4 separate regions of the Homo sapiens genome follow, and regions 2, 3 and 4 are each linked to region 1. Evidence: fine-mapped expression QTL. A gene starts in region 1. Each other region holds a variant in brackets. All regions are shown on one strand. Distances are from middle to middle. Region 1 holds the start of F2R (coagulation factor II thrombin receptor). Region 2 has its middle 25 kb from the start of F2R. Region 3 overlaps IQGAP2 (IQ motif containing GTPase activating protein 2). Region 4 has its middle 20 kb from the start of CRHBP.

What was found. PIP is the estimated chance that this variant, and not a neighbour inherited with it, causes the effect.
Region 2: its variant is fine-mapped to the expression of F2R in whole blood (TOPMed, PIP above 0.99). The same link has a PIP of 0.9 or more in blood mononuclear cells.
Region 3: its variant is fine-mapped to the expression of F2R in sun-exposed skin (GTEx, PIP above 0.99).
Region 4: its variant is fine-mapped to the expression of F2R in sigmoid colon (GTEx, PIP above 0.99).

Annotation. Positions count from the first base shown.
Region 1 is chr5:76,712,050-76,720,073 of GRCh38, reverse strand. It overlaps F2R (coagulation factor II thrombin receptor), which reads right to left and starts at 3,948. Exons shown (of 2, transcript NM_001992.5): 1 at 3,679-3,948. The coding sequence starts at 3,766. NCRUPAR (non-protein coding RNA, upstream of F2R/PAR1) reads right to left here and starts at 7,671. Exons shown (of 1, transcript NR_028375.2): 1 at 7,186-7,671. RefSeq lists enhancers at 1,098-1,598, 1,599-2,099 and a silencer at 3,893-4,142.
Region 2 is chr5:76,737,391-76,745,086 of GRCh38, reverse strand. No RefSeq gene overlaps it. Among named protein-coding and RNA genes, the nearest start is that of F2R, 25 kb to the right of the region's middle. RefSeq lists enhancers at 3,455-3,534, 5,668-5,737, 5,838-6,167. The variant C/T (reference allele first, on the strand shown) is at 3,674.
Region 3 is chr5:76,673,739-76,677,741 of GRCh38, reverse strand. It overlaps IQGAP2 (IQ motif containing GTPase activating protein 2), which reads right to left. Exons shown (of 36, transcript NM_006633.5): 26 at 3,706-3,790; 27 at 3,033-3,265; 28 at 392-524. Among named protein-coding and RNA genes, the nearest start is that of NCRUPAR, 37 kb to the left of the region's middle. The variant C/T (reference allele first, on the strand shown) is at 2,310.
Region 4 is chr5:76,929,509-76,937,532 of GRCh38, reverse strand. It overlaps a transcript of S100Z not described here. Among named protein-coding and RNA genes, the nearest start is that of CRHBP, 20 kb to the left of the region's middle. The variant A/C (reference allele first, on the strand shown) is at 4,156.

The DNA.
Region 1 (8,024 bases):
AAAATTACTTGCTGACTCATAAGAAATCTGACTTTCAGGCTTTATAGAGCTTTCTGGTCTGCTTACGGTAGAACCACTGCTCAGTTTTCTGTCTTTCTGTTTAGGTTTACTAGCAATATCTCTTGTAACATCTGATTAATTAGTGTATTCATGAGCAGGGATCTTTTCAGAGCCTGCCTTATCATCTGTTAGCGAAAGTAAATGAGAGAATACCACAGTCCGTGCATAAATGCTCACTAAATACCTCCCTGTGCTGGGCCTGAGCTACCAAGGCGATAGGGCACAGACTTTGCTTCTATATTTTGATGAATTATCAAAAATAGGTAAATCCATACTGTACTAGGGAGCACAGTGGGGTTACTTCTCTACTGTAAGAGGTGCTGGGAGTCTAGATGGCTTCCTTTCTATAGGGGGTGTTAGAGAAAGCCTGCACTTCGGAGAGACAGGCCTGTGGTCAACTCCCAATTCCACCTCTTTTTTTTTTTGAGAGAGAGTCTCACTCTGTTGCTCAGACTGGAGTGCAGTGGCACAATCTCAGTTCCCTGCAACCTCTGCCTTCCAGGTTCAGGCAATTCTGGTGCCTCAGCCTCCCAAGTAGCTGTGACTACAGGTGTGCACCACCATACCCAGCTAATTTTGTATTTTTAGTAGAGACAGGGTTTCACCATGTTGGTCAGGCTGGTCTCAAACTCCTGGCCTCAAGTGATCCCCCTGCTTTGGCCTCCCAAAGTGCTGGGATTACAGGCATGAGCCACCGCACCCAGTCCCAATTCCACCTCTTTCTCAACTTGTGACTTAACCATTCTGGGTCTCTGTTTTATAACCAGTAAAATGAGGATGACATCTACTCAAAGGGCTGTTGTGAGAAATAAATAAGATAGTATTGTAACGTCCCTAAGAAGGATGTCAGCTGTAGTCAGTACTCCACAGAGGGTAGCTGTTTTTAATTAAACATGAACGTGGCGGGTATGGGATATGGGGAGGGCATTCTGGCCAGAGGGAGTGGCATGCGGACAGAAGCCAGAGAAAGCATAGCTCCTTGAAGGGAGGATCTAGAGGATGGGGCTGGGTGAACTGGAGGGTGAGTAATAGGAGATGGCTGGAGAGGGGCTGGGGACCCTCCTGCAAGGGGAGGAGCACTTCATTCCATGCCAGAGAATTGGGCTTGACTCTGTGAGTAGGAGGGTAGCAAGTGGAATTGCCCACCAAGTTCTCTCTGTCATAGTCACCACCAGCTATTCTTGAACACTTTAACCCTCTAGAGCCCCATAAAATTTATAAACATCACCTTTTACTCTTGGATGTTGGCCCTTTTAATGATCACATATCATCTCACTTAAATTGTCTAGACGAATGTAAACTGGTTGATGAATTTACACATTTCTCAACAACTATCTGCTGAGTGAACATTTGTTTTAGTCACCATGGGGATAAATAAAACTTTATAATCTTAGTTGGGAGAATGAGACACACACACAAAGTGACAAGGCAGGAAATGCCAAAATGAGTGGGAACAAAAAGTCGGGAAGTGCTGGAGGAAGGCTCAGCTTGGTGGTCAGGGCCAGCCCTGGGAGGGCTTCACCGCCCCTCTTGGCACACAGAGCTGGTAATCCTGGACAATAAACTCTATCACAGCGGTGGCGGTTCAAGGATGGGAGGCACTGTTGGATGCCTCAGAGTCCCAGCACCACTACCTTATGACAGACAATGCTTAGAATTGTCAATGCATGGTGGTAATAGAAAGTAAACCTATCTTGGGTTGATTTTATTAGTGATTTTAAATTTTCTAAAGACAAAGCCCCACTTATTCCTAATTGCTTGCACCCAGGGTGGGTGGACTGCCCCTTCCCTGCCCCACCCGCCACCACTTGCTTAGCCGCTGTCTCTGGGTCTTAGTTGCAGAATCAGCAAAAGGGGATAAATACCCACCTTAACAAGGTGTTTTGACAAGGTGAAATGAGACAATCCAAGTGAAAATTCCTTCTGGCCCAGGGCTTGACATGGAATATGGCACTTAGCAAGCGCTCCTTTTCCTCTATCATACTCCTTTCTTCTTTCCCTCCCAAAGTGGTTCCAGAATCCAGTGTTGATAAACTAGCCAAGTTCATCCACCTGCCTTTCTGTCTACACCAGCACTGTCCATATTAACATGCACCACTCCTGCCATGAGGATGTAAGAAGCTTGGCAGAAACCAGTACGCTTTGACTTCACTCCCTAATGAGGCTACACACCTTGCTGGGAGGCCACTGTGAGAAAGGGTGCAGCATTTCTATAAGCTCTGTTCTCCACCCCATGATCCAAATCTCAAACAAAACACTGGATTCTCAAGAGCGTGTCCTCAAACTACATTGTGCAAATTACATAATGGTATGTGAAATCATATCTCATCGCAAACAATTTTTCAGGAGTTCTCGGTGTTCTCTCAAACACTTTCGGCAACAATGCTCACTTATCTGCAGGCAGGCTAGTTACTGCTAAACACTGGGCCCCAGTCTGGAGCTCTTAGTTTTCCCAAAAGCATCTCAAAACTCACCCTGAACAAAGACAGAGAGGCGAGAACATGCTATGTCTTTGTCACCTCTTAATCTTGATGTGTCTACACTTTTTTTTGAGTGTGGGAGCAATATAGAGTGCACATTCTTTTAGCGATAACAAGAAAACCCGCTAGAACTTCTTTCAGCGTAAAAAAAATGGCTCAAAGCTTATAAAATACTATTGTTATTAGGAAATTCAAAAACACTTTTCTCACTTTCTAATTAGCGCCTTTACAGGCTAAAAACAACTCATCTGTGCTGCTCTTGGGGAAAGGGATACAGAAAATATTTGACCAAATAAATTAATCAAATTTATTTATTTGGTCAAGTGGCCAGATACTTAAAAATAGACTACTAGTGGGGAAAATATTCTAGGGGAGCAACCTTCTTGCAGTGGATCAGAAATCTCGTTAAGAAATACTGGGATCCCACAGTGTTCGAGGGAGCCCGGTCCTGGGGAGGGATCTCTCTCTTCAACTCACTTAGAAGGAATGGGTTCTAGGTAACAACAAAATCCTCTCCATGTCCCCTCCCCCGCCACCACGCGGAGCCTCTGCTATTGTCACCATATATCTCGCACCCTGCGCACCTCCTGGACACAAGGCCGGGCCGGGGGCTGCTGGTACTGATTCTCTGCTAAACATGCCAAGGGACTGCCTGGGCTTTTCTCTACATCACTTTTCTCGCCTGTAAAATGTGCAAGAAAAAAACTTCCAACAAAGCAAAACTTCAGCGGCAGCGGTTCGCCACTTTATATTTTAAAGATCGAAACGTTTATTGGTGGAGCAACGTGAGAGCTTTTCTTTTTGGGGGTGGTCCTGGGAGAAACACAATGACAAGTGCAACGCAGGACTGCAGGCTCCCCCAGGGGGCTTCCGCTCCATCCTCCTCCATATCCAACACCCCGTGGCAGGCGGGCTGCACCCTCCAAGATCGAGTCCAAAGGGGCATCGGCTGGGCCCGCGAAGGGGGTGGCACGCCCCACCTAAACGTGACTGGAAAAAACTCCAGATCTCAGCCCAAATGCCAGTTTGGCTTTCGGAGGAAACTGAGGCAGGGGTGAGGAGAAGGCGCAACAGTGACCCCCGCAGTCTCCCCTCGGCGTCCCTCCGCCCGCGCACCCCATTCCCGTGCATCTCTCACCTGGCCTGCGGGCCCGGGTGCGGGCAGACAACAGCGGGCCGCACAGACTGAAGCAGGCGGCCACCAGCAGCAGCCGCCGCGGCCCCATTGTCCCGGGCTCTGCGCGGCGCTGCTCCGGGAGGCTGCCCCGCCTCGGGCTGCTCCGCTTCACCCTCTCTCCTGACTTCTGCGGGTCGGGGAGCCGGTCTTCGCGGCAGGCAGAGCGCAGGGTGCCCACGGGTAAGATCAGGGTCCAAGCGACCCTCGGCGAGCGCTGTGTCTGGGGCGGTTAGCGGGGCGGGGCGGGACTGGGGCGCGCGGTCGCGCGGGCGCGAGCGAGGAAGGGCGCCCTCCGGCGTGCAGTGAGAGTCTCTGCGCTGGAGCCGCTCGGCGCCCCCTCCCCGCGGTCCCTCAGCCGCCGCTCGCAAGCCCCTCTGGCTCTGTGCGCCCCGCCCCGCCCCGCCCTGCCCTACTGGGGGGCCCTGGCCGCCGGCCACTGCCGGGCCTAGAAGTCCAAATGAGAAGTTTTTTCCTCTGGGCACCGTTGATTCGCGAAGCTGTCAGTGACTCACACTGGCGGGGTCCTTGGAATGGGGCCGCACGGCTCGCAGGCTGCTTCCCGCGGCCGTCTCGACCCTCCTGGGATGTGGAGACGTCGACAGTGGACGCCCCGGCCAGGATGCGTCCACGCCCTGCAGCCCCGCAGCCCTGGCGTGGCCTCCCGTCCTCCCTCCCTCCGTGTGGGACACCGGCAAAGTTCAGTTTTCGCTAAAAGTCTAAAAGGGACTTCTGCTTTTGTAACGTGGGGATCACGGATTTAAAAGTTTATGATGTAGTGACAGGGTTGCCCCTAAATGAGAAAGGGCCCTTGAGTCTGGACAGAATTCTTGAACTTTTATACGTCTCTCTTTATTTCGCGAAGTTAGGCGTTTCATACGCCGGGCACTCGTTTCCCCCACACGCAGACTGCGAGTGGAATAGGAAGAGCGGCTTCTCCCGCTTCCCCCCCGCGCGGCCTCGCGGAGCTCTTCCCTTTCCCGCGCCGCCCGCCGGGGTCACCTGCGCATCTGGGAGGAGGGCGCGCGTCTGCCGGTGAGGCCGGCGTTCTAGGGCCGCGGGCGCCCAGGAGAGAAATGGCCTGGTAACTTTCCAAGTGTCCTTCACACGTTCTTGAACGATATTACAGTTTGTTTTGTTTTTGAGGCAGGGTCTTGCCCTGTCGCCCAGGCTGGAGTGCAGTGGCGCCAACACGGCTCACTGCAGCCTCGATCTCCCTGGCTCAGGCCACCCTTTCGCCCCAGCCTCCGGATTACCTGGGACCACAGAAAGGCGCGCGCCACCATGTCCGGCTAATTTCACTGCTGGCCTCAAGCGATCCTCCTGCCTCAGCCTCCTAAAGTGCGGGGATTACAGGCGTGAATCACCGCGCCAGGCCTGATATTAAAGGAGTTTGGCTAAATTCAAGGCACAGGGCGGGGACACTCGCTTGGCAGTCTGCTAAGGGCCCCCAGGGGCGTCGCGGCTGGGGGTGGGCAGGAGGAGCCTGCAGCTTAAGTTGCTTTGCCACTGGCTCTGGTGCGTGCGCCTTTCAGACTCCAACAGGAAATGGGTCCCCAAATAGCTGTTTCTAGGAAAGCTCAGCCGCAGCCCCTTCTCCTCTTAACCCAGCGCACTGATGTGCGGGCATATTCGGAGTTCTGTGGTTGATAAGCTGCAGCTGAGAGCCGGTGGTCAGTTTTCTAAGCCTTTTTTAAAAGTGAATTTCGCACGAAGAGTATCATTCCCCCACTAGAGCCCGGACACTTACATCCGTGGAGAAAGTACGATCAGAGGCGATTTCGTTCTTCCCTGTATTCTCCCATCATCCTCAAAGGACAGTACCTTGTTGTACACAGAAGTTGATCACTAAATTGCGGAAGTACCCAGTTAAATAAAGCTTTTTAAAATCTATCCCCGTTCAGTTATCCTCTGGAAACATACCCAAGAGTAAATGTGAACAGTTAAAATTACATAGTTCTTCATTCACTATTAAACTATTTTTCATTATTCCTAAGACGTCATTGATTTTACAATTTATCATTTTAACCCATTACCACAAGCCAGAAAAAAATGTGACATACCAATGATTGTAAGAAACACTCCAATTTCAGGGTTATGAAGAAAAGGCATTTTAGAATCAATGAAACACAGTGGAAAATATAAACACATATGACAAAATTTCTGATAGTTGAAGGATATGAAATGAAAAATAAATTACCTTCTGCCTCCCCTCCCCTAGTTGCCATCTGACCACTAAGTTTCCCCTCCTTCCTTCCTTCCTTCCTTCCTTCCTTCCTTCCTTCCTTCCTCCCTCCCTCTCTTCCTTCCTTCCTTCCTCTCTTCCTTCCTTCCTCTCTCTCTCTCTCTGTCTTTCTTATTTTCTTTCTTTCTTTTTTTTCCTGAGGCGGAGTTTCACTCTTGTTGCCCAGGCTGGAGTGCAATGGCGCGGACTCGGCTCACAGCAACCTCCGTCTCCTGGGTTCAAGCGATTCTCCTGCCTCAGCCTCCCGAGTACTTGGGATTACAGGCGCCTACCACCGCGCCTGGCTAATTTTTTGTATTTTTAGTAGAGACTGGGTTTCACCATATTGGCCAGGTTGGCCTCAAACTCCTGAACTCAGGTGATCCACCCGCCTTAGCCTCCCAAAGTGCTGGGATTACAGGCATGAGCCACCGCATCCAGCTACCTGACCACTAAGTTTCTGTTCACCATTCAAAAAATCATATCCACATACAAATTGCATATATGTATATCCTTAAAATAAGAATGGAATAATACCACCACATTTTAAAATTTTATCTGTGTCATTGGTGGAAAATGTTATTTTTAACCATTTTACAAAACGATAAAGCTTAAAAGGATGCTTTGGGGTCTTAGTTGTTAGAACAAAATGTACCTCTAGTGACAAAAAGACGTACAATGAAGGCTGGGTGCAGTGGCTCACACCTGTAATCCCAGCACTTTGAGAAACTGAGGCGGTCAAATCACTTGAGGTCAGGAGTTAGAGACCAGCCTGGCCAGCATAGAGAAACTCCGTCTCTACTAAAAATACAAAAATTAGCCGGGCTTGGTGGTGTGCACCTGTAATCCCAGTTACTTGGGAGGCTGACGCAGGAGAATCACTTGAACCTGGGAGGCAGAGTTTGCTGTGAGCCAAAATTGCACCACTGCACTCCAGTCTGGGCAACAGAGCAAGACTCTGTCTCAAAAAAACAAAAACAAAAGCAAAAAAAAAAAAAAAAACAAAAATAATGAAATGCTTAAATGCTTTGTGCATATTGACTAAAGGATTCCTTCTAGGAATATTTCTGCCAGTTGTATTTTTTGAGGCTTGTTTGGTACATGTTTATCTAATTCTTTTTAAATAGTATACTATTCCCTTGTATACATATAATAAATTTTAGTCTTCTAAAACTATTTTATCTGTAGTGTTGTCCCCATTTATATTCCTAACATAGCTAATTTTTTGCTTTTTTCCCTTTATCTGACCAGAGGTCAGAAATGACTATTTTCTAATGCCCGTCTTTTTGCTCCGTTACTTTTATTTTTATTTATAAACACAGATTTTTAATTCATTCTTTTCCTCTACTTTCTTTGAGTTTACTCTTTAGCATAATTTTTTTTTTTTTTTTTTTTGAGACGGAGTCTCGCTGTATCGCCCAGGCTGGAGTGCAGTGGCGCGATCTCGGCTCACTGCAACCTCCGCCTCCTGGGTTTACGCCATTCTACTGCCTCAGCCTCCTGAGTAGCTGGGACTACAGGCGCCTGCCACCACGCCCGGCTAATTTTTCTGTATTTTTAGTAGAGACGGGGTTTCACCGTGTTAGCCAGGTTGGTCTCGATCTCCTGACCTCATGATCCGCCCGCCATGGCCTCCCGAAGTGCTGGGATTACAGGCGTGAGCCACCGCGCCCGGCCTCTTTAGTATAATTTTTTGAACTGATTATTTTTTACCTCTTCTCCTTCAAAAGACCACATCAGCTACATTTTGCAAGTTTTGATATGTGCATATATAAAATTCAGGTCTAAATATTTTGTCAATTTCATTCAATCTTCAACCATAAATTCTTGGATATTTTGACTGGCTTTTTGTGACTGATTTCTAATTTTATGGTCTGTTAGTGATGTTGTTTTTTGTTTTGTCCTTAGACTTCACAAAGTTCCTATGTTTATGTGCTCTTAAGAGCTTTTTTTTTTTTTTTTTTGAGACGGAGTTTTGCACTTGTTGCCCAGGCTGGAGTGCAACGGCCGGATCTTGGCTCACCACAACCTCCGCCTCCTGGGTTGGAGCGATTCTCCTGCCTCAGCCTCCCAAGTAGCTGGGATT
Region 2 (7,696 bases), 25 kb before region 1:
CATATGAGTGTTACCTATTAAAAAAAATACAATAAAAATCCTACATGAATACAGGGCATTGACTTGTATTTCTAGAGGAGAGGAGAGACAAGGCAGAGTAAGTGATAGAGACAATTGTTTGTAAGGTTAAATCTTTCAGTGGATATAGTCAGATATTTAGGGTCAATATCTAGGGGGTTATAGCTAAAGAATACTAATATTCCGATAACTTTACTGAGAGACATGATAATATACAGGTCAACTCTGAAAAACTTTAGCATTTTAACAAATAAACTGTGGTTTACTAGGTTAGAGATTTCATGTAAAAACTAGATCCATGGTTCTCAAAGTTTGGTTTGCATAAGAATCACCCCCAGCTCTTGTTAAAAATGCAGATGATCCAGGTCCTATCCCAAACATTCTGGTTTTAGGTCCGGGATGGAGACCAAAAACCTGCATTATAACAAGCAGCTCAAAAGACTTTTGTGGACTCCATTTCCAGAAGCACTGAATGTAGTCACTGCTGGGTGGTTCAATCGACTACTGAAGCTGCCTTCATTATACAGAAGCAACAAGCCTATGGATACCAGCTTCAGTCTCACCATGTAAGAGACCATTTAATAATTGTAAGAAAATGAATAAGTGAAATTAAGGATCCAACAACATGGGTCAAAGAATGCAGAAATTAAATAAAGCTCAAGTATGTTTTAAAAAGAGCTTATGGGATAATTAATCAGATTTTTAAAATACTGAATAATAGAATGTGGGTTACACACATTCATTAATTTCAAGAATAAGAGGACTAACATAACTATGCAATAAAATCAGTCAAAGTTTTTGTTTTGTTTTGCAAAAATAATATTTGCTGCTTGATGAGGAAATATGAATTCCAGAAGAAAACAAATGAATAGCCCTTTTGGCACAAGTATAAAGACTATCAGAGTAAAAAGTCGTGCTCTGGTTATGATGACAGAATGCTGTACTGAATGTTCTGGTAGCTGCTGGGGACAAATAGAAACATTTCTGGCTTCAGAGTATAGCTAATGACTTTTTTTTTTTTTTTTCTTTTTTTTTTTTTTGAGACAGAGTCTCGCTCTGTTGCCCAGGCTGGGCTCACTGCAACCTCCACCTCCAGGGTTCAAGCGATTTTCATGCCTCAGCCTCCTAAGTAGCTGGGATTACAGGTGTCAGATACTGCACCTGGCCATGGCTAAAGATATTTTTATGTTTTTGAGAATTTCAGAGTTCCACAAGATATTTTGGGAGAATCTTGAAGATGTCAACTATATGTAGAATCATATGATTTCCTAACACCATTATTTCCTGCTTGAATAATATATTGAGGCACAAAATACTAATTGTGGCTAGGAGATGGTCAGAAAGATTTGTTTGTTTTTTCAGATTATTTTACTTTTGTTTTAATGTGGGTTGCTTTTTTGCTAGAGAGGCAGTACATACTCAGGAAAGAGAGAAGTAGAAAATACTTTAAAGGAAAAAAAATGACCCAATTACCAAAACGCAAGTTTAAACATCTTGGTATATTTCTCATTAGTCTTTGCCTTGACTTAGATCTATTTTTCCCCATCTTGTTGGTTTTGTACTGCTTGTATATCATTGCATCTTATTTTTTAAAAAATTAAACATTATAAGCACTGCTCTGTGTCGTTACATACACTTAAAACGTCTCATTGTTAAAGGGTATAATAGTCTCTGGAGAAGTCCTTTAAAATTACACATCTAGAGGAATTTTGTCTTCTGCTAACATGCAAATAAGGCTGCTATTAACAACCAGAAGCCTATTACTTTTTTTGATGTTATTTGTAATTATTTCTTGATAGATTCCCAGAAGTCATACAACTGGGTCAAAGGTTATGAACATGTAAGGATGATGACATTTTGTCAAATTGCTTTCCTAAAGTGTGTCCACCGACATTATCTTACCCTTTCTGGTATTTATATTATTTTCCTTATTTCCTCCATTCCTTCTGTAATACTTATTAGGGAGCTGTTTTAGCCATCATAGAAAAAGATCATTGTTAATTGGACACGAGCCGGTGTTATCTTGTTTTAAATTGCAGCTATTGGATTATCGCTGAGATGTAACATTTTTTCCCACGTTGGCTAACAAATTGTAGTTTTTCTTTCATCATTTAGTTTTTTCAATCAACTTGTAAGAGGGCTTCTATAATGACGAATTTACTCCAAGTTTACTGAATGTGCTGTAAATGTGTTCCCAGAGTTGATTAACAAAATCTTTGGTTTTCCCCAGGCACAGTGGAATCATGGATCCTCTGATGATGATCCCTGGGCTGACTCATTTGCCTTTGGGTTTGCAAAACTTCTCATTCCAGCTCCATCAAGACTGAAGCTCCTGAATGCTAAGTAGCACCCTAGTGCTTCCCTGAGGTCACCATTTTTCAGCCAGACCCAGAGACAGGAAAAATATCCACAGTTGCTTTCTGGTAACCAGGCGCTGCCGCTATCTGCCGGGCACTATCTTTAAAAAATGGGAGTTGCCACTTTAAACCCCCAGTGTCTTCTGAAATGGTTTTATGTATAAGATTAGAGCCATTTAAGCTATCTTTTTCCCTAGAAAAGAACCAAAGAAGGGAGAAAGAGGAGAGGAAGCATACAGCAAGATAGATATCACCTACAACAAATTTTGATTAAGAACATATGCTGCCACTACATTAAAAATTGCCCCAATTTTCTCAGAATAAAAAAAAATTGTCTCAGAAAATGATTTTAAGAATATGAGAATTGATTTTCTGGATCCCTGGACCTGCAACCTAGCCAAATTCTGCCTCGGGGCTATCTCTGAGAGCACTGCTATTCAAAGCATAGTCCAAAAGGAGCAACTTTAACTTTACCTGGGAAGTTGTTACACAGGCAGACCCAGCCTCGGACCAGTTGCAGCAGACTCTGGTAATTTGTATGCAGGTTAAAGTTTGAGAAGCAGACAGATCACAGCTCACTGTAACTTTGAACTCCTAGGCTCAAAGGATCCTCCTGTCTCAGCCTCCTGAGTAGCTGGGACTACAGGCGTGTGCCACCACACCCAGCTAATTCTTACATTTGTTTTAGCAGGGTCTTGCTATGTTGCTCAGGCTGGTCTCAAACTCTCAAACTCCTGGCATCAAGCAATCCTCCTGTCTTCACCTCCCAAAGTGCTGGGATTACAGATGTGAGCCACTGCACCTGGCCAAGAAACACTATTTTCTTTTCTTTTTTAAAAAACTTTTACTTTAGGTTCAGGGGTACATGTGCAGGTTTGTTATATAAGTAAATTGTGTGTCTTGGGGGTTTGGTGTACAGATTATTTCATCACCCTGGTAGTAAGCATAGTACTCGATAGGTGGTTTTTCAGTCCTCTCCCTCTCATCCTCCACCCTCAAGTAGGCCCTGGTATCTGTTGTTCTCCTCTTTGTGTCCATGTGTACTCAATGTTTAGTTTCACTTATAAGTGAGAACATGTGGTATTTGGTTTTCTGTTTCTGCATTAGTTGGCTTAGGATAATGGCCTCCAGCTCTATCCATGTTGCTGCAAAGAACGTGATCTTGTTCTTTTTTACGGCTGCATCGTATTCCATGGGGTATATGTACCACATTTTCTTTATCCAGTCTATCATTGGTGGGCATTTAGGTTGATTCCATAGCTTTGCTATTGTGAATAGTGCTGCAGTGAACACCTGTG[C/T]GCAGATGTCTTTATGGTAGAATGATTTCTATTCCTTTGGGTATATACCCAATAATGGGACTGCTGGGTTGAATGATAATTCTGTTTTAAATTATTTGAGAAATCACCACACTGCTTTCCACAATGGCTGAACTAATACTTTACATTCCCACCAGCAGTATATAAGCTAAGAAGCACTTTTCAAAAACAGTGGTATTGTTGATCTAAAAGGAAGAAGCTGAGTCAAAATTAATATAAGTAGAGAGTTTATTTGGGCCAAGCTTGAGGACTGCAACCCAGTGTATATTGAAGTGTATATTCAAGTTGTCCTGAATATACAATCTGATTAGCAGCAGTTGCATGTGAATGTTTATAAAGGAAAAGAGGCAGTTCCTAAGTTGTTTATCAAAATTTACATTAAAATAACATAAGCTGTTGATTGGATACACATTGTTCTTTGTATCACAGATTCCAGGAACATGAAGATAACAGGGAATGTAGCTAGTCAGGAACAAAATGCCTTTTTTTTTTTTGAGATGGAGTCTCTCTCCGTTGCCCAGGCTGGAGTGGCGCCATCTTGACTCACTGCAACCTCTACCTTCTGGCCTCCTGGGTTCAAACAATTCTCCTGCCTCAGCCCCCCGAGTAGCTGGGATTTCATGAGCATGCTGCCATGCCTGGCTAATTTTTGTATTTTTAGGAGTGTAGGGGTTCCACCATGTTGACCAGTCTGGTCTCAAACTCCTGACCTCAAGGGATCCTCTCGCCTCGGCCTCCCAAAGTGTTGGGATGACAGGCATGAGCTACCACACCACCAGGAACAAAATGACTTTAAATAATTGCCCACAGGCATGGGGGGTGGTGGGTAGGGGGAGGGTATGTGCCGGGGGTGTGACTGAAGTCCTCTACTCCCGTCTCTCTGGGCCTAATAAATTTTGCACACCTCACATAGCTCAGACTGCTGAGGGATTTTTCTTTTCTTAGTATCAACCCTGGTTTACACATCAGAATCTTCTGAGGAGCTTGAAAACAATATCAATGTCCAGGCCTCGCCCCCAGAGATTGGCACTGGAATTGTTTAGAAGCTCTCCAGTGATTCTATGCGCAACCAGAGTTGAGAACTGATTTAGTTTCTTTTCTTTTCTTTCTTTCTTTTCTTTTTTTTTTTTTTTTGAGACAGAGTCTCGTTCTGTTGCCCAGGCTGGAGTGCAGTGGTGCCATCTCGGCTCAGTGCAGCGTCTGCCTCCCGGGTTCCAGCAATTCTCCTGCCTCAGCCACCCGGGTAGCTGGATTACAGGCACGTGCCACCATGTCTGACTAATTTTTGTATTTTTAGTAGAGACAGGGTTTCACCATGTTGGCCAGCCTGGTCTCGAACTGCTGACCTCAGGTGATCCGCCCGCCTTGGCTTCCCAAAAAGCTAGGATTACAGGCATGAGCCACCAGGCCTGGCCAACTGATTTAGTTTCTAAAACTTGTTACAAGGCAGAGCTGATAAAATTCTAAATCTGAGGTCTTCAAATTTTGTGCTTCCTAACTAAACATTAAGTATTAGGATTAAATCCCAAAGCCAGTTAGCTTCTGGAGGATGGGAATATATTATTTGTCTTGTTTTTTTTAAAATATGTGTCAGCTAGTTTCAAGAGCAACTAGATATCCCAGGATAGGAAACAAAACAACAAAAATAGATATCAAATGATTATGGTTTTGCTCACGAATGCATCTCAGTATTGGACAGCCCACCCTTCGTGGTGTTTTCACTTCCTTGGATGGGTCGCATAGCAGCACACCAAAATGACCTGCAGATGTAGTCATTAAGATAGGCAAAACAGCCAGACTGGCCCTGCCACCATGCAGGCTACTATAGATGCAGCTTTCTTTTCTTTTTTTTTTTTTTGAGATGGAGTTTCGCTCTTGTCATCCAGGCTGGATGGCACAATCTCGGCTCACTGCAACCTCTGCCTCCTGGGTTCAAGCAATTCTCCTGCCTCAGCCTCCTGAGTAGCTGGGATTACAGGTGTGTGCCACCACATCTGGCTAATTTTTGTATTTTTAGTAGAGACAGGGTTTCACATGTTGGCCAGGCTGGTCTCAAACTCCCGACCTCAGGTGATCCACCCGCCTCGGCCTCACTAAAGTGCTGGGATTACAGCGGTGAGCCACCGTGCCCTGGCCAGATGCAGCTTTCAAAGCTCATCTCCTTACTGCTTATGAGTCATTTCCTGAAGTGATAAACACACAGCCTGCTGGGTTGAAACTGTACATGCTGTGTTATCTGAATTCTGAGATGCTACTGAATTTGACCTCTGGTTTTCCGTGTGTTTCCATAAGACTAGCATGCAATCAACAGTCCCCATGACAACAAACTTGGCGCTTGAGTTTCACTTTACAGGAATGCCACCATGGGTAGAATCTGCTGCTGTTCTGAATTGTCTCTTGGTCTTCTGGTCTGAAACTTTGCTCAGCAAGCACCTCTCTCTTTCCTTTACACAGCAGGTGGCTGAAAATCAGACCTCACACAGAGCTTCCTGTTCTGTGGACCACACCATACCTGATGACGTGAATCAGTATCTTTTCTTTTCTTTTTGTGACAGGGTCTCACTCTGTCACCCAGGCTGAAGTGTAGTGGCACCATCTTGGCTCATTGCAACCTCCGCCTCCCAGGCTCAAGCCATCCTCCCACCTTAGCCTCCCAAGTAGCTGGAACTACAGGCATGAGCCATCACGCTCGGCTAATTTTTGTATTTTTCGTAGAGACGGGGTTTTGCCATTTTGCCTAGGCTGGTCTCGAACTCCTGGGCTCAAACCATTCATCCGCCTTAGCCTTCCAAAGTGCTGGGATAATAGGCGTGAGCCACTGAGCCTGGATGTTGAATCAGTTTCTTGCTCCAAGACTTGGAACCCCTCAGCTCTGAAACAGCCAGAAACCCAGAGTGGTGCCTGCAGCTCTAAGCCAACTCTTTACCCCTGTTTGCTTTTATGCTTTTATAATAATTACCAGTTTATCTGTTTTCTTCAAGTCAATAAAGTTGGGACATCTTGGATAAGGGCAGTGGTTTTCAAACTTCTTTTGCTCAGAACACCTTAATACACTTAAAATTATTGAGGACCAGCAAAGAGCCTTTGTTTATGTGGGTTGCATCCATTGGTGTGCTGGAGTCAACTTGTACCTGCTCACAAGAATTCAATATTCAGGAAATTTGTCAAGCCAACTGTTAAACAGTTGGGAGCTTGAAACTGGAAAAGAAGGGAGTATTCACACCATCAAAATTGGCAAATGCTAGTTTGCCAGATCAGGCTTTTTTTCTTTTTGTGGAGATCCTGCTTAGCAGCACATCACTGACTTTTTTTCTTTTTCATTTTTTGAGACAGCCTTGCTCTGCTCTGTCGTCCAGGCTGGAGTGCAGTGATGCCATCTTGACTCACTGTAACCCTCGCCTCCCAGGCTCAAGTGATTCTCGTGCCTCAGCCTCCCAAGTAGCTGGGATTACAGATGTGCACCACCACACCCAGCTAAGTTTTTTATTTTTAGTAGAGATGGGGTTTACCTATGTTGCCCAGGCTGGTCTCGAACTCCTGGCCTCGTGATCCGCCTGGCTTGGCCTCCCAAAGTGTTGGTATTACAGGTGTGAGCTACTGCACCCTGCTGCCAATGATTTTATCTACTGATATTTTCCATATTAGACATTAAAATGGAGAACTTTTGAAAATATCTATTTCAGCTAAAAATGACAATAAGCCCATTACATGTTAAAATAAATACTATATTTTTCAAAATTTTTTCCCAAAACAATAATTTAAGGAGGAGAGTTGCATTGTTTTACATTTTTGCAATCTCTTTAATGACTGGTGTAATAGGAGACAGTCAGATTTTCGTCTCTGCTTCTGCATTCAATCTGTTGCACTTTCACATGTTGTGTAGCTTCTGGAAAACTCATCTGTCCACTTATGAGAGAAACAGACCAAAAAAGGCAAATAATATCTTGGTATTTGAAGAGAGTTTGACCTTGCAGATCTCCTGAGAGTCTCAGGAACTCTGAGAAT
Region 3 (4,003 bases), 40 kb after region 1:
TGCCCGGGCTAGTCTCAAACTTGTGGGCTTGAGTGATCCTCCTGCCTCAGTCTCCCAAAGTGTTGGGATTACAGGCATATGCCACCATTCCAGTCACAATCTGGCTTTGTAAATGGATTATGCCAAAAGTACACTTTCTTTTTTGGGGAGAAGTTTTATTAATGTCTAGGAGTCAGGGAATAATTATGTAAAAATAGAATTTTGTTGTTTGGGAGAAGGAGTTTTATTAATGTATAAGAGTCATGGAATAAATAATTGCGAGATTTTTAGGGTTAAGAATATGAGTATTAGCACATGTGTACAATAAGTCCTGTAGAGATTAAGCATTTTCAAGATAACAGATGCCTAAATCATGGGTCCATTGCTAAGATGGCTCCCCATCCCCACTTACTGAGTGTGTGCTGATGATTTCTTCAATTGAAATATAAATGACTGGTTTGCTGACTGTCACCAGGTCTGTGTATTTGTCCATATTAAACTTCTCTTCTGGCTCAGGGACATTACATGCTTCTTTGAAATATTTCCTAATAAAGGGGGGAAAAGTCTTAAGACAGACTCAAACATGTGCATTAAACAGTTTCATCAAAATAGCTAGGAAATTTTGAATGATGACATGTACTTTGTTCCCATCTCAAACCTTGAGAGGACGTGTTACAGCTTCTTCCAGGCTGGCTCCTGGCTGTCGGAGCTGCATCCATGTTTCTGGATATTGGACCCAGCTCCTCAAACAGGATTGGAGAGAGTGGCAAGGGCCTCAGGCCCTGTTTGTGACTTAGTGATATAGTGACCTATGCGTAGGTCATCTTAAAAATGTTATTTTAAAAATGGTCCCTGAAACTTAAAAAGTCAAAAATGATAATTCTTGATCTAAGAATCAAGTCTGTGTGAGGAATACAATAGAAAAAAAAGCAATTAGTCAAATTTGCTGCTTTAAACAGCACAGGCTCCTGGGCCTACATCACCCTAATCACCCTTCAGAGCTTCTGTTACCAGTTTGACAAAAATGAGATTAAGTCTACTCTTCTTCGTTGCTGCAAATATTTGCTGGCCGATGGAAAGATTGTTAAGGCTAGACACCCAAATACATAACATGTCCCAGGACTCAGACCCTAAAAAGTCTATTTTAAGCTAAAGCAAGTTTTGACAGAGATCAAGAGAAGTGAGGCATGCTGTGATCACAGTTGAATAGTTCTATGTATTTTTTGCCTAAACAATTCTTGTGCAGGTCGAATATACATTTTATTCTATAAAGTTGTAAATGTTTCATATGCCTGAAATCATTGTCGGCATCTCTCCTACAGGCACCTGGGTCTTATGTACCAGAAATGACCTCTGCTTTCCCAGCCAGAGGCTGGGGGAGGTTAAACAGCAGAGCCCTGTTGTGGGGAGCATGTTCCCATGTAACAGTCGGCTTTCCTATGCTGCTTTGGTTATAATTTTTTGTAGATTTCTGAGAAACACAAAGGATAAATATGAGTGGAAGAAAGGACAAGTTTAGAAGAGGCTCACTTCTTTGGTCTTGTTTCTTTTTAAATAAAGAATAGGTGGGAACATAAATGACTGATAGGAATAACAGCAGTTAAAAGTTCATGAGAAATGTGGGAAATGGATATTACTTTGTGTGTGTGTGTGTGTGTGTGTGTGTGTGTGTGTGTGTGTGTGTGACAGAGTCTTACCCTGTCACCTGGGCTGGAGTACAGTGGCACAAACACGGCTCACTGCAGCCTTGACCTCCAAGGCTCAAGTGATCCTCCCATCTCAGCCTCCTGAGTAGCTGGGACTACAGGTGCTTACCACTATGCCCAGATAATTTTTTAAATTTTTTGTAGAGATGAGGTCTCCCTATGTTGCCCAGCCTGGATATTACTTTGTTAGTCAGTGAGGAGAATGAAAAATTAGCTTGAAAAATCAACACTTTCTGTAGTAGGAGGATTTGGGGCAATTTTCTCACAAAAGACCACAAATTCTAAATAGAAATGAATAATCATGAACTACCTTTGTTTTCTAGTAAGTCACTCACTCCAAGGGAGACCGAGGAATGAGAAATGAGTTTCCAAGTGAGGATTAAAAGAGGCCAAACTGATGTTACACTTCTATGGCCTGTTGATTAAATGGCAGACATGAGAACAAACATGACAAGAGGAAAGTGTTTCCTCAGAGCTCCAGGAGGAGTGAATCTGACTACCAGACTCATGCCTTTCTTGTTAATGATTAGTGATATAATTTGGAAACACAAAATCAATAGAATTAAATCTTCTTACATGTGTCATTAAGAAAGGCTTGAGAATAGAACAGAACATATTCACATA[C/T]ACAATCATCAACAAATATAAAATCTGGGTTTTCCTAACCTTTCAAAATCAAGTATTCCATTTCCTACTACAGTCGTTCCTTGGTATGTTTGGGGGATTGGTTCCAGGACCCCCATACACACCAAAATTTGTGCATACTCAAGTTTGAAATTGGCCTTGTGGAACCCATGTATGTGAAAAGTCATCTGTTTGTATATGTGGGTTCTGCATCCCATGAATACTGTATTTTCTCTCTGTCTTTGGTTGAAAAAATCCATATATAAATAGACCCGAGCAGTTCAAACCTGTGTTAATCAAGGGTCAAATGTATCTGACGTAGATAAGCAAGTTCTTCCTCACCGGAAAACTTTTTAAAAATGATTCCTCTCTTCTTAAGTTGAAAGAAGCAGAAATCTGCTATTTTGATTTTTAAATTCTAGGTACTGGAAGCCTGTAGCATACAAGGAAGAACAAGTATGCCATTTTGTCAGCAGCAGAAATAATACACACAGAAAAGACTCAGTGTAATAGGAGTGCTGTGGTGGGGGTGCGATAGGATCGCCAGACAGAGGCAATCTTGCCTGCACTTCCCTCTCTCCTCTTTCCCCAGTGGCTGGTAGAAGAAATGCTTGTAACCACCTGGGGTTCCTGTCCTCCATGCCCACTCTAGCTCTGGGCACAGAGCACATATTATTCTTGCCTACCATTCTTGCACGTTTCTCCAAAACTAAGGGCCCCTCTCACCTGAATTCCTGATACGTCTCTGATAAATAATTGTTCATAGATGAGAGATGCTCATTTTCTCCTTCAAACAGCTTGTTGGAGGCTGCGTGCTGAAGAACCTTGGCCACTGATCCTAAGTTTCTCCTTTGGTCAGAATTTATCTGACCTCCAGCTGTCATGTCGATGATATCAAAGCCATCTGGAGCTACAATGGCTGGATTCATGTACCGATAGTACAGGAGGTTTCCAACAATCTGGAGTGACGCAGAAGTGCATGACCATTTTTAAGAGAGAAAACTCAAGAGTTTTAGTTTTCTTTTTTTTTTTAAAGATATATATTCTCCTACATTTCCCAAGAGAAAGCAGATCATTTTCTGATGTAAATCCTAACAAGGAGTTTAATAAAGGCAATGAATATAATCACACATTATTAATAGCATAATTTGCAAAGTTATTTTTGATGAAAAAATGCTCATTGCCCCCAAAATGCTCTAATGCAAAGAATTTCAATAATGTCTAGGATCTCCAAATTAACCTCAGCTTAATCAATTATCTTGAGAGTCATTAGAAACAGAAGACCTGCAGCTTATTATAAATAATCATACATGGGGAATAATCTTACAAAGTTATATGTTGGTAATTTTGATTCATACCCCCAGGAGAAGCTATGGTGAGATTACCCTTGAAAATCTACCTTTAATAGCTCATCTTCTGTTGCATCGGGGAATTTCTCATGGATCGAATTCTTCAGTACTTTGGCTATATACCTCAATCCATAACTACATATAAAACAGATGACAAAAGAAAATAATGGAAAAAAGGCGGAGTGAGGAAAAAACACACAGCAATTGTTCCAGTCAACTTCAGCTGAGTAGTTTTTCTAAAAATTAAACATAAGATGAGATGGTAATGGAATCACAGGACTTCCACTGATGATAATAACTGAGCTGTGTTTGCTACTGAAGTATTGCCCCTTCTTTAGAGAACAGTCA
Region 4 (8,024 bases), 220 kb before region 1:
CTGCTCACCTCAACCTGCCAAAGTGCTGGGATTATAGGCATGAGCCACTGTGCCTGGCCTACCAACATTTTGTGAATTGTAAAATATAAAATAGGTAGGGAAGAATATATAAAATGCACATCTAAAATTTAAATAAGAATAATAAAATGTATTATTATACTATCTATATTCCTATCACTCTAGTTCTTTAAAAAAAAAATCAAACATTACCAAGGTATTACCCCAGGTGCAACCCCTTCCTCCTCATTACATAGGGCAAGAGTATTCATTCCCCTGCTTTTTTTTTTCTTTTGGTTATATCACCTACATATGTGTCCTTAAGTGATATGTTGCTTAATTTTGCAATCTTGAGGGGCAAGCATAAATTTAGCCTTTATGAAGAAGCCATTTCCAATATCTTATCTGGAAGGGTCAGAGTCTGGCTGTTGGTGTCCTGGACCTGAGTGGAAAGGTCAGGGAGGGCTCTGCAGCCGGGATTTGCTGAGCATAAGATCACTTATTCTTTCTGTTTTGCGTATGACGATCAGACTTCCAACTGTGTCTAGTGTCCATAATACAGAGAATAAGCTTCCATACTCCTGTTGGGTGAAGGATGAGGGGCTCAAGGGCTGAGGAATGACGAAGGAGAGACCGTCTCTTGAGATCTCGCAGCTTCTCAGACAACCTTTCCCAGTGCTCCTTCTTTCAGTGCCCTTGCCTCTTCCCTCTTCCCATCTCCATCCCCAGTGGCAATCCTAGGCAGGATTCTGCAGCCTAAAGCAGCTTGGTTCATTTACCTACTGCAGCCTTGAGGTTAGGCTTTTGCGAGCCTACCAAACCAGTTTCCAAAATGTTTCCAGCTTCCAAAACATTCTTGCTGTTGTTTCCTTCATGGTTGTGTGTGTGTGTGTGTGTGTGTGTGTGTGTGTGTGTGTGTAGGAACTTTAATGGAGTTTTGGGAGAGAGTAAAATTGGATGCTGATTCAATCTGCCATCCTCACTTCACAAATATTTTTTTGATTGACTTTTTTCTCTATTACACCAAAAAATTGTATGTTCATGGTTTTAAAAAATTGTTTAAAATATAAATAAAAAAGAAAAACCATAAATCAGCCTTAATCCTACCATGTAGATATAACCATGGTTAACGTTTTGATATTTATCCTTTTAGATATGTACATAATTTTTCTTATAAAAATAAGCTTATAGTGCACATACTAATTTGCAATATGATTTCTCGTTTTTATTGTTATTTTTCAGAGATGCAATATGATTTCTTCATGTCACATATCACAAACATGTTTTTATATCATTAAATATACTTTTTCCACATCATTTAAATGGGCACACAGCATTTTACTCGCATACGATATTATTTTATTTTATCAATTCCCTATTAATAAACATTTCTATTATTTCTAATAGAATAATTTACTATTGTAATCAAACTGATATACAATTTAAAAGTCATTATTTTGGCCGGGCACGGTGGCTCACGCCTGTAATCCCAGTACTTGGGGACGCCGAGGTGGGCAGATCACCTGAGATCAGGAGTTCAAGACCATCCTGGCCAACATGGTGAAACCCCATCTCTACTAAAAATACAAAAATTAGCCCGGTGTGGTGGTGTGCACCTGTATTCCCAGCTACTTGGGAGGCTGAGGCAGGAAAATTGCTTGAACCCAGGACGTGGAGGTGGCAGTGAGCCGAGATCATGCCATTGCACTTCAGCCTGGGTGACAACTGGTGACAAGAGTGAAACTCCATCGCAAAAAAAAAAAAAAGTCATTATTTTGAGTCTTTAGACTTAAAGCTAAAGGCTTAAGCCAATTAATTCTCAAAGGTGATATCCTTTGAGTCTAGATTCAAGGATAAATCAACAGACCAGGGAGAAGGCAGTACCACATCTAGTATCAGAGGCACGTTAGATCAATTACTTTTCATAAAATTTTGAACACTGTGAATCAGATATGTTCCCCAATATTCACTCATTGCCTTCCTTTCCATTTAGAGAAGAGATGGAAAGAAAAGGAATAGAAACATGAGGCCAGACTGAGCAAAGTGGTTGCTTACTTTATGATGCTAAGATGGTGGATTTTAGACTGCATTTCATAGCACACTATTCCTGTCTGTGAAGACCTCTAGGTATTCTGAGATCGAGAAAGGTCAAATTAATCTCAATGATGTGTCAAATTAGTAATCATATTAATTCCATATTGTCACCTGCTCTTTGGCAGGTTTGATAAACCATGTGTTAAATCGATTATGCAAATAATTTTAGCTAAATTAAAACATCTGTTCCACACATCACCAGATTTCAAGGTGAAAGTCTTCCTGAAGGTGAGTTTTTAGTCCCACATTAAATATGACATGTATTTTGGCTACGTTGTGCATTGGTTTGCCAGCATCACAATCACCATTTGTGTCTTTCTTTTCTTATGCCAGACATTGAGATGCTACATTTTGGCAGCATTTGACAAAAAGCTAGTTTGTTTTTCATACATAATACATATTGACATAAACCGTAAAACTTGGAATGAAAAATATGGCATGACTATAAGAGATGTATCTTTTCACTTCATGAAAGGATGACTCATGGGGCCACAAAGGGCAAATAGGGTGGATGCGTTGGAAATCCCTCCAGGAGACCCCAACAAAATATATAGGCATTTGACAACTCCTAGAGCTTATTGTCTTAGTCTGTGTTGCTATAACAAAATACCACACACTGGGTAATTTATAAACAATAGAAATTTAAATTCTCACTGTTCTGAAGTCTGGGAAGTCCAAGATCAAGACACCAGCAGATTCAGTGTCAGGTGAGGGCTGCTCTCTGCTTCCATGATGGTTCCCATTGCTGCCTCCTCTGAAGGAGAGGAACACTGTGTCCTCACATGGTGGAAGAGACAAAAGAACAAGAGAATGCTCCCTTCCACCTTCTGCCCTTTTATAAGGGTGCTAATCCCATTTATGAGGGTGGAGCCTGCATGATTTAGTCACCTCCCAAGGGCCACACCTCTTAATACTGTTGCATTGGGGATTAGGCTTCAACATGAATTTTGGAGGGGACACTATTAGTCAAACCATAGCACTTGCCTACTCATTTCTCCTTTTCCATGAGATCACTTGGCCTTGAGTTTGTAACTATGTCTTCATTTTCTCTGCCGCCATCTTTCCTTAGTTGCATTTTCAATAGAGAAGAATGAAGTAATTCACAAACTTTAGTTTTGCATAAGAATCAACTGGGGAATGTGTTAAAAGTACAAGGATTATCGTTTAGAAGGATTATCTTAGTAGGGTGGAGCCCAGAAATCTGTGTTTTTTAAGCACTCATGGTCATTCTGATTTAGTGGTCTGTGGTCTGCATTGGGAGAAACACTTGGTAGAGGATGATTAAGAGCATGGACCTTGGAGTGTGACATCCCTGGATATGAATTCTTCCTCTGTCACTAATTCTTCTGTGGTCCTGGGCAAGTTATTTAGTATAAGTCTCAGTTTCCTAGCCTATATAATGGGATACTACAACATGGATGAAACTTGAAAACACTATGCTAAATGAAATAAGCCAGAAATACATGATTCCACTTATATGCAGTATCTGTAACAGGCAAATTCATAGAGACAAAGTAGACTAGTGGCTACCAGGTGGTTGGGGGAAGAAGGAATAGGAAGTTTTTGTTTAATGGGTACAAAGTTTTTGTTTGGGATGGTGAAAAAGTTCTGGAAATGGGTGGTGGTGATTGTCCCACAGCATTGTGAATATACTTAATACTGAATTGTACACTTAAAATTTTGGTAAAATTTTGTTATGTATATCTCACCACAATCAAATGAAAGGTGTGGCCATGAAGAAATGAGAATAAATTTTCAAGTTGTATTCTTAAAAAATAGGAACAATAATTCCTGTACCCTAAGGTTGTTGTGAATATTGAGTGAGATAGTATATGAAAAGTGTTTACTTAGTACAGGGCCTGACATGTAACAAATGCTCCGGGGATGGTAGGTAGCTACCACCCAGTAACAGGCGACAGCTCCTTCTGGTATTCAGCAGCATATCACGGGCCGTTCTGAGCAGGTGAGTGGTTATGTCGACCAGGTCAGAGACTGCTCAGCTCTCTAGGGAACATTCACACTGTTTGAGGTGATTCCTCCACCCGCTGGGTCCCAATTCTAGAA[A/C]TCCTCTCGAAGAGGCCGTCTCACTCCACAGGATTCTTCCCTGTTCCACTGTACTGACAGAGGAGACACCACTGGAACAACGTTTTTCTTTCCATGCTATCCCTTGAGGGAGGCGAGAACTCCACCCAGCAACACAGTAGAGAACAGGAGATGGGAAGCCTCATCCGGGCACTCCGCCTGGCTTCTCTGAAGCTCTCAATCCCCCACCACCTGACACCCCTTCCTCTTTCTCTCTCCTTTGAATCATCTCAATTTTATCCCAAACTTGGAATACTGTGGACTCTAAAACTTTATCCTTAAACATCCTTTTGAGAATAACTCCCACAGTTGCAAATAGCGAGAATTGAGATTATGACAGTAAGTTAAATTTAATTACAAAAGTACCTCTTTGTTTTCCCTTGGATTTATTTTAGCATTGATGAAGCAAATATAATTTTCATTTTAATGAGTTTCAGCTCCCACTGGTACTAAGCCGCTTTGTTTAGGTGTTAAATATTACAGAGTCATTAAAGGCTTTTCTTACACTTTTTTAATCTTTCTTCCCAAATCCCATCAGAAAAAAATGTCTAGCTTTATTTTGTTTTTATTTTTAAAGCGTTGATGAAAAAATAAATGAATTTTCTTTGTAAAAGGTAATGACTAAGTCATTCATCTGTGGATGGGAAGGGGTCGGCCACACAGTGGGAGACATCTCCCTAACTGGAGTTTCAAAAATGGTCTTCACAGCCAGGCACGGTGGATCACACCTGTAATCCCAGCACTTTGGGAGGCCAAGGCGGGCGGATCACTTGAGGCCAAGAGTTCGAGACCAGCCTGGCCAACATGATGAAACCCCATCTCTGCTAGAAAAACAAAAATAAGCTGGGCGTGGTAACGGGTGCCTGTAATCCTTGCTACTTGGGAGGCTGAGGCAGGAGAATTGCTTGAACCTGGGAGGCTGAGATTGCAGTGAGCTGAGATCACACCACCGCACTCCAGCCTGGGCAACAGAGTGAGAGACCCTGTCTCAAAAAGAAAAAAAGTCTTCACTTCGGTCTCATCGTGAGAAGGGCATAAAAATCTTGTGCTGTTGAAAGCCTAGGAGAAAGCTCTGCAAAATGCTTATTTTCCAACTTAACCAAATTATATTACTTAGGTTGTGCCTATAAGACATCAAAATAACTTGTCAGTCCTGCGCAAAAACCAGACAAACAACAGCAACAAATCTCCTATCTTTTCACTGGGGAGAAAAAAAAGAATTTAAATGCTTGAGTTTACAACCTATGATTTTGAAAGATGCAGACACAACACAAGTGACCTTTGAAAATAACTGACATCTTATGAAAAGATATATTGGGAAGTTTTTGTTATAAATTATATATATAAATAATAATCCATGTTAGAAAAATCCGCACTAGTGGTCAATGAAAAAAGATAAAATAACATAATTTTACCATCCAGAGATAACTACCATTATGGATATTACCCCTACTATGTTCCTCTGTCTCTCCTATGTGTGTGTGAATGTGTATATATGGACATCCTGGTGTCAAATTTTACACACTGAGACTTATGTGTGCACAAAAAAAAAGAAGAATAAAAAAAACCCAAATGTTCTTTCTTTCCTGTAAGTGATCTCATCTTGTTCTTAAGATTGCAGCTTACTTCTGGGTATTAGACTCCCACAGTCAGTGGCCTCCTAATGCAACCTTAATGTTCTCAGATTCGCTATCCATCTGGTCTTTTCTATAGCACTTCTCCATCCCCACCAAGGTTCAACCACGCTACGGGGCTGAAGGTAAGGACACCTCCTATTATGGACTGAATGTCTGTGCCCCTCCCCACTAATTCACAGGCTGGAGCCCTAATCCTCCATGTGATAGTGTTTGGAGATGGGACCTTTGGAAGGTAATTAGGTTTAGATGAGGTCATGAGTGTGGGGACCTCATGATGAGATTATTGTCCTCAAATAAGAAGAGAAAGAGGAGCCAGTCATGGTGGCTGGAGACTGTAATCCCAACACTTCGGGAGGCTGAAGTGGGTTGATTGCTTGAGCTCAGGAGTTCAAGACAAGCCTGGGCAACATAGTGAAACCCTGTCTCTACAAAAAAGTTTTTTAAAAAATTAGCCAGGTGTGGTGACACACCTCCATAAGTCCCAGCTACTCGGGAGGCTGAGGCGGAAGGGTCACCTGAGCCCAGGGAAGTGGAGGTAGCAGTGAGCTGTGATTGTGCCACTGCACTCCAACCCTCGACGACCGAGTGAGACCCTGTCTCAAAAAAGAAAAAAAAAAAGGAAGAAAGAAAAGGAAAAAGAGAGACTAGAGCTCTTTCTCCCTGCTCACCCACCTACAAGCCAGCAAGAATACCTGTTCCATACCCCACTGCCCCCACTCCTTCAGGCAAAAAAGCTGTTAACTTTGCCGACCCCATTCTAGCTCTCATAGGCTGCTCTCGAATTGATTTAGGTGTCCATTTCCACAAAACCTCTGCCAAGCTGGAGTTTTAAAATATCTCCTCCAATGGACTCCTACACAATTTCCCAGATGGGTAATATTCCAGGAAATCATAGGGCCTCAAACACTCTTCTTCTCCTTGGATACCCGCTTTACCCTACACTTCAGACATAATGGTCAATTCCTCAAAAACATCAGTGCTGAGTCAAGCCCAGTGATCAATAGAACAGAGCTCAGTGGTATTAAATAGAATTATGACCTAAAAGTAAAATTAAAGCAGCCCCAGCTGACAAGCTAACAGGGAATTTTCAGAGTCGAGTGATTGCATCTTTTCTAAGGTATCGAGCTGCAGAACTTCTTGCTGAGGATTGAATAGAAGGGTTTGGTCCAATCACCTACTGCCCTAAGCAACCAAACCTTAGGCTTTGTGGTCCTGAAACCCACACTGTGAGATGTGTGCCTCCTTACCATGGAAATTAAATAAGATTGGATTTTTATGTGCTTGAGACCTAAGTTCAGTCCTGGTTCTATTGTGTTCCTAGGGACCTTGGGTGTATCATTTCTGTGCACCTGTTTTTCTTTTTGGTACAATTTGGATGTGCAATCATCATGTTGCCAGACCTGCCCACGCCTGAGCATAAGCAGGGAGCTTGCTCAGTAGAGCGATCCCAGCTATTTCTCTGGAGATGCTGTCAGAGTCTGAGAATCTCTGTCTAACACGCATCACAGATAATTCTGTAGCACAGACGAATTTAGGAAACACTGAATTTGGAAATCCCTGGCTGTTTTCTAGCTTTCAGATTTCTTTGTTTTAAAGATTTAAAGATGAAAAACTACTCTTTGTGGGAATAGAAGATATCTTCACTGCAAACACCTCCCCATGTTGTAGGAAAATCAGACCAGCAGCTGCAACAGTAGAATTTTAGGATGCTGATGCACAAGAAGTTTTTATTAACATTCTCCTCTTCACATGAAGGTCTACAAATCTCTTGTGCACATGCCTGTCTGCTTTCCTTTTACCTGTTTCTGTTAGCTCCTATTAATTGAGCCTCTTTCCTTTTGTGGAAGTGGGTTGGGATCTCAGATCAATTGAACAATGTGTCCCTGCAGGTTGGGTTTTTGGTATGGTAAATAACACCCATCAACCAGCTATTGGTTATTTGGATACTGTTGGTGACCATTCCATCCAAACATTGCACCTGTTTTGCAATGTATAGTTTAGCCTGGTTCTACCATTCACTCTGATTCACAGGCTGCATATAATAACATTCAGCCTCTGCTTGGTTTCTGACACATTCAGGTTAACCATAATGACCCCAGCTTCCATCTCATGTCACCTCTTGGTGTACAGACCCAAAATACTGAGTTCTATTGGAATAACTGTAAAGCAAAGTGCAAGACCATAAGAGGATATTGTCATGCACTTATATTTGGC